Linked DNA regions of Homo sapiens: region 2 is linked to region 1. A link means that fine-mapping ties the variant in region 1 to the expression of a gene that starts in the linked region. Tissue or cell type: whole blood. Region 1 holds a variant in brackets; the other region holds the start of a gene. All regions are shown on one strand. Distances are between the middles of the regions.

Evidence for each region. PIP is the estimated chance that this variant, and not a neighbour inherited with it, causes the effect.
Region 2: SLC5A10 starts here. The variant in region 1 is fine-mapped to the expression of SLC5A10 in whole blood (TOPMed, PIP 0.98).

Annotation. Positions count from the first base shown.
Region 1 is chr17:18,974,342-18,979,341 of GRCh38, reverse strand. It overlaps SLC5A10 (solute carrier family 5 member 10), which reads right to left. Exons shown (of 15, transcript NM_001042450.4): 9 at 2,353-2,488. It overlaps FAM83G (family with sequence similarity 83 member G), which reads left to right. Exons shown (of 6, transcript NM_001039999.3): 5 at 492-1,758. Among named protein-coding and RNA genes, the nearest start is that of SLC5A10, 25 kb to the right of the region's middle. The variant G/T (reference allele first, on the strand shown) is at 2,387.
Region 2 is chr17:18,950,087-18,955,086 of GRCh38, reverse strand. It overlaps SLC5A10 (solute carrier family 5 member 10), which reads right to left and starts at 2,922. Exons shown (of 15, transcript NM_001042450.4): 1 at 2,771-2,922. The coding sequence starts at 2,881.

The DNA of each region.
Region 1 (5,000 bases):
GAGATGTCACCGGCCTGGAGGTGGGGTGTGGCCAGGCCGTGCCTTCGCAAGCCTATGGGGGTCACTCTGAGAGCCGTCCTTAGGGATGGGGCCAGCTCTGTGGGCACCACCACATGGGGCATGGGGTGGGCGCTGCCCATGGTTACATGGGGGTTGGTGGCAGCATAGACGCATGGCAGCAGCGGCCACCACATGCAGAACCCCCCACAGTGTCCAGGGCCTTCCTGAGCTGCTTAGTGAATCCTGTACCAGCCTGAGAGGAGCACAGTGCCCTGTCATTTGCAGAGGTGGGAATGGGCTTGGTGCAACCAACTTGCTTGACATCCGACTCAGTCTGACCCCACAGTATGCACCTGCTCTCTGCCCCCATTCACTTCTTGATCCCAGGGCCCTGTGGCCACAGTCTGAGGCCCAGCGGCTATGGGTGCACGGGGGCTGGGCGGAGGAAGCAGGGTCATGTGCCTGACCAGCGCCCCCTCCCTCTGTTGCAGCTTCACGTGGTCGGCCGCGCGGACGGACCGGAATGTGATCTCTGTGCTGTCTGGCCAGGTGGTGGAGATGTTTGACCGGCAGTTCCAGGAGCTGTACCTCATGTCACACAGTGTGAGCCTCAAGGGCATCCCTATGGAGAAGGAACCGGAGCCGGAGCCTATTGTGCTGCCCTCTGTGGTCCCCCTGGTGCCCGCGGGCACTGTGGCCAAGAAGCTCGTCAACCCCAAGTACGCACTTGTCAAGGCCAAGAGCGTCGACGAGATTGCCAAGATCTCCTCTGAGAAGCAGGAGGCCAAGAAGCCCCTGGGGCTGAAAGGCCCAGCGCTGGCTGAGCATCCAGGGGAACTCCCCGAGCTGCTGCCACCCATCCACCCAGGACTGCTTCACCTGGAGAGGGCCAACATGTTTGAGTACCTGCCCACGTGGGTGGAGCCAGACCCGGAGCCTGGCAGCGACATCCTGGGCTACATCAATATCATCGACCCCAACATCTGGAACCCCCAGCCCAGCCAGATGAACCGCATCAAGATCCGTGACACCTCCCAGGCCAGCGCCCAGCACCAGCTGTGGAAGCAGAGCCAGGACAGCAGGCCCCGTCCAGAGCCTTGCCCTCCCCCAGAGCCCAGTGCCCCCCAGGACGGTGTCCCAGCTGAGAACGGCCTCCCCCAGGGGGACCCTGAGCCATTGCCCCCCGTGCCCAAGCCCCGGACAGTCCCTGTGGCAGATGTACTAGCCCGGGACAGCAGTGATATTGGCTGGGTCCTGGAGCTCCCCAAAGAGGAAGCTCCCCAGAATGGGACAGACCATAGGCTACCCAGGATGGCAGGCCCAGGCCACGCCCCACTCCAGCGGCAGCTATCTGTGACCCAGGATGACCCCGAGAGCCTCGGGGTGGGGCTCCCCAATGGGCTGGATGGGGTGGAAGAAGAAGATGATGACGACTACGTAACCCTCAGTGACCAGGACAGCCACTCAGGCAGCTCCGGCCGTGGCCCTGGCCCCCGACGGCCCTCAGTGGCTTCCTCTGTGTCAGAGGAGTACTTCGAGGTGAGAGAGCACTCAGTCCCTCTCCGGAGGCGCCACTCAGAGCAAGTGGCCAACGGGCCAACCCCACCACCGCGCCGGCAGCTGAGTGCCCCCCATATAACCCGAGGGACCTTTGTTGGACCCCAGGGTGGCTCCCCATGGGCCCAGAGTCGGGGAAGAGAAGAAGCAGATGCGTTGAAGAGGATGCAGGCCCAGCGCTCCACAGACAAGGAGGCACAGGTGGGTCAGGGTCCCTGCACACCAGGGGTCACGAGTCCCTCCCTGCCAGCCACCCAAGAGCTCGAGCTGTTGTCTTCTGGGCTACCATGTCCCTGACTCTGATGACTTCAATTCCCTTGTTACAGATGGGGAAACTTGATGAACAGGCAGGGGTGGGAACCGGCCAGGGCCATATGGAAGGCCATCATTAATGCTGGGGACTCTTGGTCCCAGCATCCTGAAAAGGCAACCTAAGAAAATGCACGTTTCCCCACCTAGAGGTCTCCAAAGCCTGTGGTTAGAGGATCTTGATGGCACCTGCCAGATGGGTGGCACAGTCCCTAGTTTGCAGATGAGGAAAAGGCGGGGCACAGGGACGTTCATTTACAGCCTTGAGGTCACACAGCAGTAAGTGATACCTGTCCAGACCTTGTGCCAAGCCACATCCATGTTAATCCCTTTGATTGTGGCCCTGAGGACCACTCTCCCCACTCCCCAGGTTGGGGAACAGTTCACATCTATCCTTTGCCTCTTCTTCTGGTGACGTTTGCAGGACAAGGTCCCAGAACCCTGGGTGCCCTGCAGCCTGGGTTCAGTGCCCGGAGCCCGTCCTACCTGGGAACAATGCGCGGCTGATCATGCCCGGCAT[G/T]ATGATCAGGCCCATGGGGAGCATCTTGAGGTAGCTGGCCAGGATGGAGCCCGCCTTGGCATGGTTCAGGTCCCGGGCTGACAGTGATCGCTGCACGATGACCTGGGGGTGGAGTGCGAGACGGGGTGAGTCCAAGCCTGAGGGACACTTGTGTCAGGATTGGTCCTTGGTGGGCCTCAGGGAATGGGCATGAGGCACGATGATGTCCCATTAGCCTCTGACCTGCCCAAAACAGCCACACTCAAAGCCCCAATACTGTCAGGGTCCCACCAGGAGAGCTCACTTCAGCAGGCCAAGCAGCGAGAGCCGAGGTACACTCATTCCCAGGGACTCAGTCCCCTGACCTGTCAATAGGGGAGGTGTGGATCCTGCCCAGCCCACCACCCCTGGCAATTGTCAGGGCTGGAGGAGACCCTGGGTGGGGTGGTATGGGGACATACACCCCTACCCTCATCTCCTGGACCCTCATGACAGCAGCTGGCACATTTATAGTGCCAGGAGCAGACACTGGCGCCAACTGTGTTTGCATGGCTGGCAGAGTTCAGGTGCTTTAAGACCTGGGGTTTTGAAAGCTTGCAGTTCAGTAGCAGAGGGAGGCTAGAAGCTATCTGAGGACACCGGCCCTTCTGGGAGCCTTCAGCAAATCCTAACCAGGCCTTTCCAGATTTGCAGAATGGGAGGAGGGAGCGGTAATTTGGACCCATAATGTCTGAGATCTCTCCCAGCACTGATATTACGATTCTACTTCAAAAGAGTTACTTTTTTTTTGAGTCGGAGTCTTGCTCTGTCGCCCAGGCTGGAGTGCAGTGGTGCGATCTCGGCTCACTGCAAGCTCCGCCTCCGGGTTCACGCCATTCTCCTGCCTCAGCCTCCCAAGTAGCTGGGACAACAGGCGCCTGCCACCACGCCCGGCTAATTTTTTGTATTTTTAAAATAGAGACGAGGTTTCACCTTGTTAGCCAGGATGGTCTTGATCTCCTGACCTCGTGATCGCCCGCCTCGACCTCCCAAAGTGCTGGGATTACAAGCGTGAGCCACCGTGCCCAGCCCAAAAGAGTTACTTTTTAAACAGCTTTATTGAGATATTCACAGACCATATAATTCACCCAAAGTGTACACTGTTCCCATGGTTTTTAGTACGTTCACAAAGTTGTACGACCTATGACTCTGAAACGTAACTAGTTTTCCTTTGCGGTTCCACAGTTTAAGTCACCAGCTGCAACTCAGGAGCAGGAAGCCTCTATGATTTTTTTTTTCTTTGAGATGGAGTTTCACTCTTGTTGCCCAGGCTGGAGTGCAATGGCGCAATCTCGGGTCACCGCAACCTCTGCCTTCCAGGGTTCAAGGGATTCTCCTGCCTCAGCCTCCCAAGTAGCTGGGATTACAGGCATGAGCCACCACGCCCGGCTAATTTTTTTTTGTATTTTTAGTAGAGATGGGGTTTTACCATGTTGGTCAGGCTGGTCTTGAACTCCCGACTTCAGGTGATCTGCCCGCCTCGGCCTCCCAAAGTGCTGGGATTACAGGTGTGAGCCACCGCATCCGGCTGCCTCCGTGATTTTAACTTACTTTCCAAGCTTGCTAGTTTAACGGACGGCTCCCAGCATTTACCCCTAAGCTGTGGATGTCACGGAAACATTAATTACAGAGGCTAGGAATGCCTGCGGGCTGCAGCCTCCGAACGCAGGGCAAGCTGCTGTCCTTCCTGCTTCTCTGCCAGCTTGCTGTGACTTGGGAGAAGCCCTTGCCTCAGTTTGGGCCTCAGTTGCCCCATCTGGACAATGAGAGAGTTAGACGGTGGTTCTGTCTAGGTGCTTGGGAGAGAAGCATTTCCCTAAGACCCTGAATGTCTTTTTGCCATTGGTGGGATATTTGCCTCTATATTCCAATCTGTGCTCATGTCAGCTGGCCCTGGGACAGGTGCTGTCACCCCAAGTAGAGAAGCTGAGGCTCAGAGTTTCCATGAGCTGTGAGGCCTGCCAGTCCCCCTGAATAGGGCAGGGGCTTTCCCCACCCCTGACTGTCAGATAGCAAGGCTGGGCCCCCAACTCAGATGTCAGCAGGCCACTGCTCACCCCCACCTCCCAGCACTGGTGTCTAGTCCCAGCCAGGCGCTCTTCCCTGAGGAAGCCGGCACTCACTCCCTGAGTGGCCATTTCACCTTGGGCTCCTCATCTGCAAAATGAGGAGAGTTGTTGCAACGACTTAAGTGAGGCTGCTAGTGTAGCCGGCCAAGCCTGTCCCTGGCTCCTCAAGGGCCTCCGGTGAATGTGAGTTCTCTTTCTCAGGGAAGATGATGAGTGAGTTTTGGGGTGTGGCCATTGGAGTCAGCACGCTGCCCACGAAAGCTGTGGTTGCTGTTATGACTGAGGTGGCTGCTACTGACTAAGGGAGGGCACCCGGCCTGGAGCTGCGGCATCAGCAGGTGACAGAGCTGGCAGGACCCTGGGAGGCCTTCTGGTCTGTGCACTGCCCTGTTTCACAGACAGGGACACCAAGGCCCAGGGAGGGGCAGGGGCATAGCCCAGACGGGAGCCCAGACCAGGGCTCTGTCCACTGGACCCTTTGCCTCTTTGTTACTGGTTTTGTTTCTGGTTAGAAAAATGCCACCTAC
Region 2 (5,000 bases), 24 kb after region 1:
TGATACAGTGTTTCACTCTTTTGCCCATGCTGGAGTGCAGTGGCGTGATCTCAGCTCATTGCGACCTCCGCCTTCCGGTTTCAAGCAATTCTCCTGCCTCAGCCTCCTGAGTAGCTGGGATTACAGGCGCCTGGCACCACGCCTGGCTAATTTTTGTATTATCACAAAATAATACAAAAGTAGAGACGGGCTTTCACCATGCTGGCCAGGCTGGTCTCAAACTCCTGACCTCGTGATCCACCCGCCTAGGCCTCCCAAAGTGCTGGGATTACAGGCATGAGCCACTGCGCCCGGCCTACATTTCCTATATTCTTAGAGCTCATTTGAAAGCAGTTTTCAGTCACTTGTTAACAGATACTTTAATGAATGCAAAGGCTCAGCTCAAAGTCCCCTCCTCCAGGAACATCTCTTCCTTAAAGGCCTCCCCCCGGCCCCCGCCAGACTCTCCCAGGCCCACCATCTAAACATCTTTGCAGGGCTGCACCTGCCTGGCTTGCTCTGTCTGCTTCTCCCTGTGGGATGCATCTCCAGCATCCTCCCTGTCTGGTTCTGATCTTTTCTGGATGTGCTCACTGCTCTCTTGCCAGCCGCTCCCAGCTGGGCCAGCCTAGCCTGCTAGGAGGGACAGGGCAGAACTCCTACAGCCCTACTTCCAGGGGCACCAGCCTGCAAACAGCAAGCTGACTCACTAGGAGAGGTGGGTCATGGGCAACAAGGGCTGGTGGCCCAAGTCACTGGGCTACAAAGGGTCTGGCCTCAGGTGCCCAGAACATCTTTCTTAGACGTGCTAGCCAGGACAGCCTTGTCTCCCCTCCTCTTTCCCTCTTCAGATCTTGCCTGGCCCTTACCTCCCCTCATCCAGAAACCCTCCACTGTCTGTTCTGCCCCACGTGGGCACCTCCTCCTCTGAATTCTAGCCACCAACTGTCACAGGAATATAGCACGTTACAGTTTGCAACAGATTTTCACTTCCATTGGACCCTTGCTCCTTGGAACAGCCCTGAGATGTGGGCTGCACAGAAACCCGCATTGCGTGTTTGAGGAAACTGAAGCCCACAGAGATTAAGTGACTTAAGTACACAGAGCAGAGCCGAGACTTGAACTCGGCTTTGCCGATGGCCAGCACTGGGCTACTTGTGAGTTAATATTTAATCACATACAGGTTGAGGAGCCGTTATCCGAAATATTTGAAACCAGAAAAGTTTTGGATTTCGGACTCTTTCAGATTTGGAGATACTTACAGAATACCTGCCAGTTGAACATCCCCAACCCAAAACTCTAAAATCTGAGATGCTCCAATGAGCATTTGCTTTGAGCATCATGTTGGTGTTCAAAATGTTCCAGATTTTGGGTTTCAGATTTTTGAAATCCAACCTGTGATAATTAATTTTAATGACTGCGGCTGCTACTCTTATAATCACCACTGCTACAACTGCCACCACCACCACCACTGCTACCACTGTAGAACCAATGGCAGCAGCAAGGTCTGGTCCTGTGTGGGCCCCTTGATAGCAGACCTCACCCCAGGTAGGTGGTGTCTCCATATAACAGATCAGAACACTGAGGCCCAGGAAGCTGAGGGGACGTGACCAGTCTCCTGTTTGCCAGGCCTTCGTGCTTAGGCCAGGGGTTATGGAAGATAAGAACGGGTACTCGGCCGGGCGCGGTGGCTCACGCCTGTAATTCTAGCACTTTGGGAGGCCGAGGCGGGCAAATCATGAGGTCAGGAGTTCGAGACTAGCCTGGCCAACACGGTAAAACTCTGTCTCTACTAAAAATACAAAACATTACCTGGGTGTGGTAGTGGACGCCTGTAATCCCAGCTACTCAGGAGGCTGAGGCAGAATTGTTTGAACCCAGGAGGTGGAGGTTGCAGTGAGCCGAGATAGTGCCACTGCACTCCAGCCCAGGTGACAGTGCTAGACTCCGTCTCAGTTAAAAAAAAAAAAAAAAAAAAAGAAGGGGTACTCATTCTCCCCAGGAGACTGTCAGGGCTCAGGGATGCCAGGCTGGGGACCTCTGGGGCTTAAGAAGTGGAGCCCAACATCCCCAGGCGCTAAGCGTGGAGCAGGTGACCTGAACCAGGCTGTGTCCACCTTCCCTCAGGAAGGCCTCCACGATAGACCAGAGGAGCCCTTCCCTTGCTGCAGGGCCAGAGCCTCGGTTTCTCCATCTGCACATGAAACAGCCTGTCCCCAGGGGCCCCGCTGCCCCTGGAATCTGTGTGTGGGGTCAGATCTCTGCTCATTTCTCACTGTTATGAAGGGAGAAAGAACCGGCTTATGATCTAGGGCTAGGCCACAGGACATAAATCCCCAGGGAGCTTGTTCAAAATAAAGACCCCCAGTTCCCAGGGCCCTCCCTGCCTCCGGATTCTGATCCAGCAGCTCTGGGGTGCAGCCAGGGAATCCCGGGGAGCCTGTTGTTCAAGCAGACAGGAGTCACTGACACCATGGAGACTGGGACCAGGAGGCTGATGGGCCACACCCAAGGACTCCAGCTGGGCAGCAGCACAAAAGCCCAGTTACCTGTTAGAGAGAATTTCCTCCTCCTCACTTTGCAGATGGAGACGCCATTACCCAAAGAGAGAAACGGGCTTGGTCAAGGTCTCCAAGCAAGTCTACCCCAGGCTGGGAGGAGGACCACAAGGATCACTAGGCCACCAGCTGGGACCAATGCTGACACCACAGGGACATGCTGGACCCCGGTTCCCACCCCAAGCACCAACCCTGAGAGCCCACTTGGCCAACACCACCACAGGTCCCCTTACCCATATGCCCACGGCCACATTCAGAGCAAAATACACAGTGATGACGATGATGTCAGCCACGCTCAGCTGCGTCCCGGGAGTGTGGAGGTCGCTGGTGGAGTTGGCGGCCATGGCTGTCCTGCCGCAGGCACTAGGTATGAGCCCGAGGGACTGAGGGGCAAACCAGGTCAGAAAGGGTTTCCTGGCAGGGAGCTCATTGATCATTAAACCAAGCGGACAGTGGCATCTCCAGCCCATGATGTGGCTGCATGCAGGGCAGCTGCCTCACCATGCAGTTCAGCTTCCTCACCCCATGGTGGGGTGCAGATCCCAGAGCGCAGGAGTCAGGGAGCCTGGGAGAAGCAAGTGGGAGGAGGAAAGGAAGGAGCCTCCTTGAACTCGGAGGGGGCTTGGGGAAAATGAACCGCATTTAGTGGACCCGGAGGCAGCCCAAATAGTCCCAGAAAGGCTGGGTTGCTTAATGGGTGGCTTCACCTATATCTAATTTGTATAAGAAGCATAGAGCGTAGGGACAACCGCCTCACCTCTGAAGATACTGCCGTGGCGGGCAGCCATGTCCTCCCTTGGCCATCGGGCTGTGAGTGGACTGAGCAGGGCTTGGGAGGGGGACACCTGCATTATGGCTCACGTCCAGCCAACACAGCCCAGGCTCAGAGGCAGCCCCATGTCGGACAATAAAGTCCTGCTTCCAGCGTTTCTGCTTTCTTTTTCTAGACCCGTGAAACAGTCCCAGGCCCCTCAACTTGACCATGCATTCGGCCCCCACCCCGGGCAATGTCTGCCTGGGACCACAGAGGGACCCAATATCTGTCACACACCAAGGACCATGCGTGGCTGTTCTGCACATGATCCCATTTCACGGACCATGCGTGGCTGTTCCGCACATGATCCCATTTCACGCTCACAGCAGCCACGCAGAGTAGGCAATGTCTCATCCTAGTCAAGGAAATGGCCATCCGCCATTACGCAGCCATTGAAGGCGCAGAGTAGGATTCAGTGCAGATGTGGCCCCACCGTCTCCACCGCAGTGACAGTGACGAGTTCCATCTGGATTCCATCAGAGTGGGACGCTCGCTCACTAATTCTATCAGTGTACACAGCAGGGCTGGCCGGCAGTCTCACGCCTCTGCTCAGTGACATGACTCGTGACTTTGCAAAGCATTTGCAGTTTAACCAGACATGCAGCACTTCCAGAAGTGTTAATGAGTGAGCGGCTGCCACCAGGAACACGCTGGCCTGCAAACCCAGCCAGCCTGTTACTCAATAACCCTGAGGTGCGGGTAAAAATTAATCCCCTCGGCCAGGAGCAGTGGCTCATGCCCTTGGGAGGCTCATGCCTTTGGGAGGCCAAGGCGGGTGGATCACCTGAGATCAGGAGTTTGAGACCAGCCTGGCCAACATGGCAAAACCTCGTCTCTACTAAAAATACAAAAATTAGCCAGACATGGTGGTACGCACCTGTAATCCCAGCTACTTGGGAGGCTGAGGCAGGAGAATTGCTTGAACTCAGGAGGTAGAGATTGCAGTGAGCCAAGACTGCGCCATTGCAGTCCAGCCTGGGCAACAGAGGGAGACTCCATCTCACAAAACAAACAACAACAACAACAAAAAACAATTAATAGTCCTCACATACAGGACTAGGCAGAAGAAGGAAGGGAAAAAGGAAGTCACTGCTGAGAGAACCCTCAGGCAGGCTCAACTGCCTGCCGTCTCCCCTTGCCTCTGGCCAGCGAGCCTCAGATGGTGTTTACTTCCCAAGCCATTGCTTGCAATGTGTTTTAAAACAAAAGGCTGCTTTGCACTGATCAGGAGGACCCAGCTGGGAGGATCCAGACTTACCAAAACTATCCCATTAATAGAGTAGTTGTACCAGCAGCATTGGCTCTGAGACCGTTGGCTAGGTCTTAGAAGGAAATAAACCACTTAGTGATAACTGCCGCCTTTGGATCAAAAGTCCTTGGGATTTTTGCCACTGAGTTTAAATGGAAAAAAATGAAAAAAGAGAAAAAAAATCCTAGGGAAAGAAAGCACCAGTAAAGGTGCTCTTAAGGGGCTGAGACTGATTTGCTGGTTCTGTCCTGAAGGACGGGGACAGGAGGAGGGTGGCAGCGGAGGACATGGAGGGAGAAGTACCAAACAAGCCCAGCCATGTCTGCGGGAGAAGAAACGCCACCCGAAGCCCAGTCACACCCACATTCCCACCCCACCTGACCCAACGGGATCACCTATT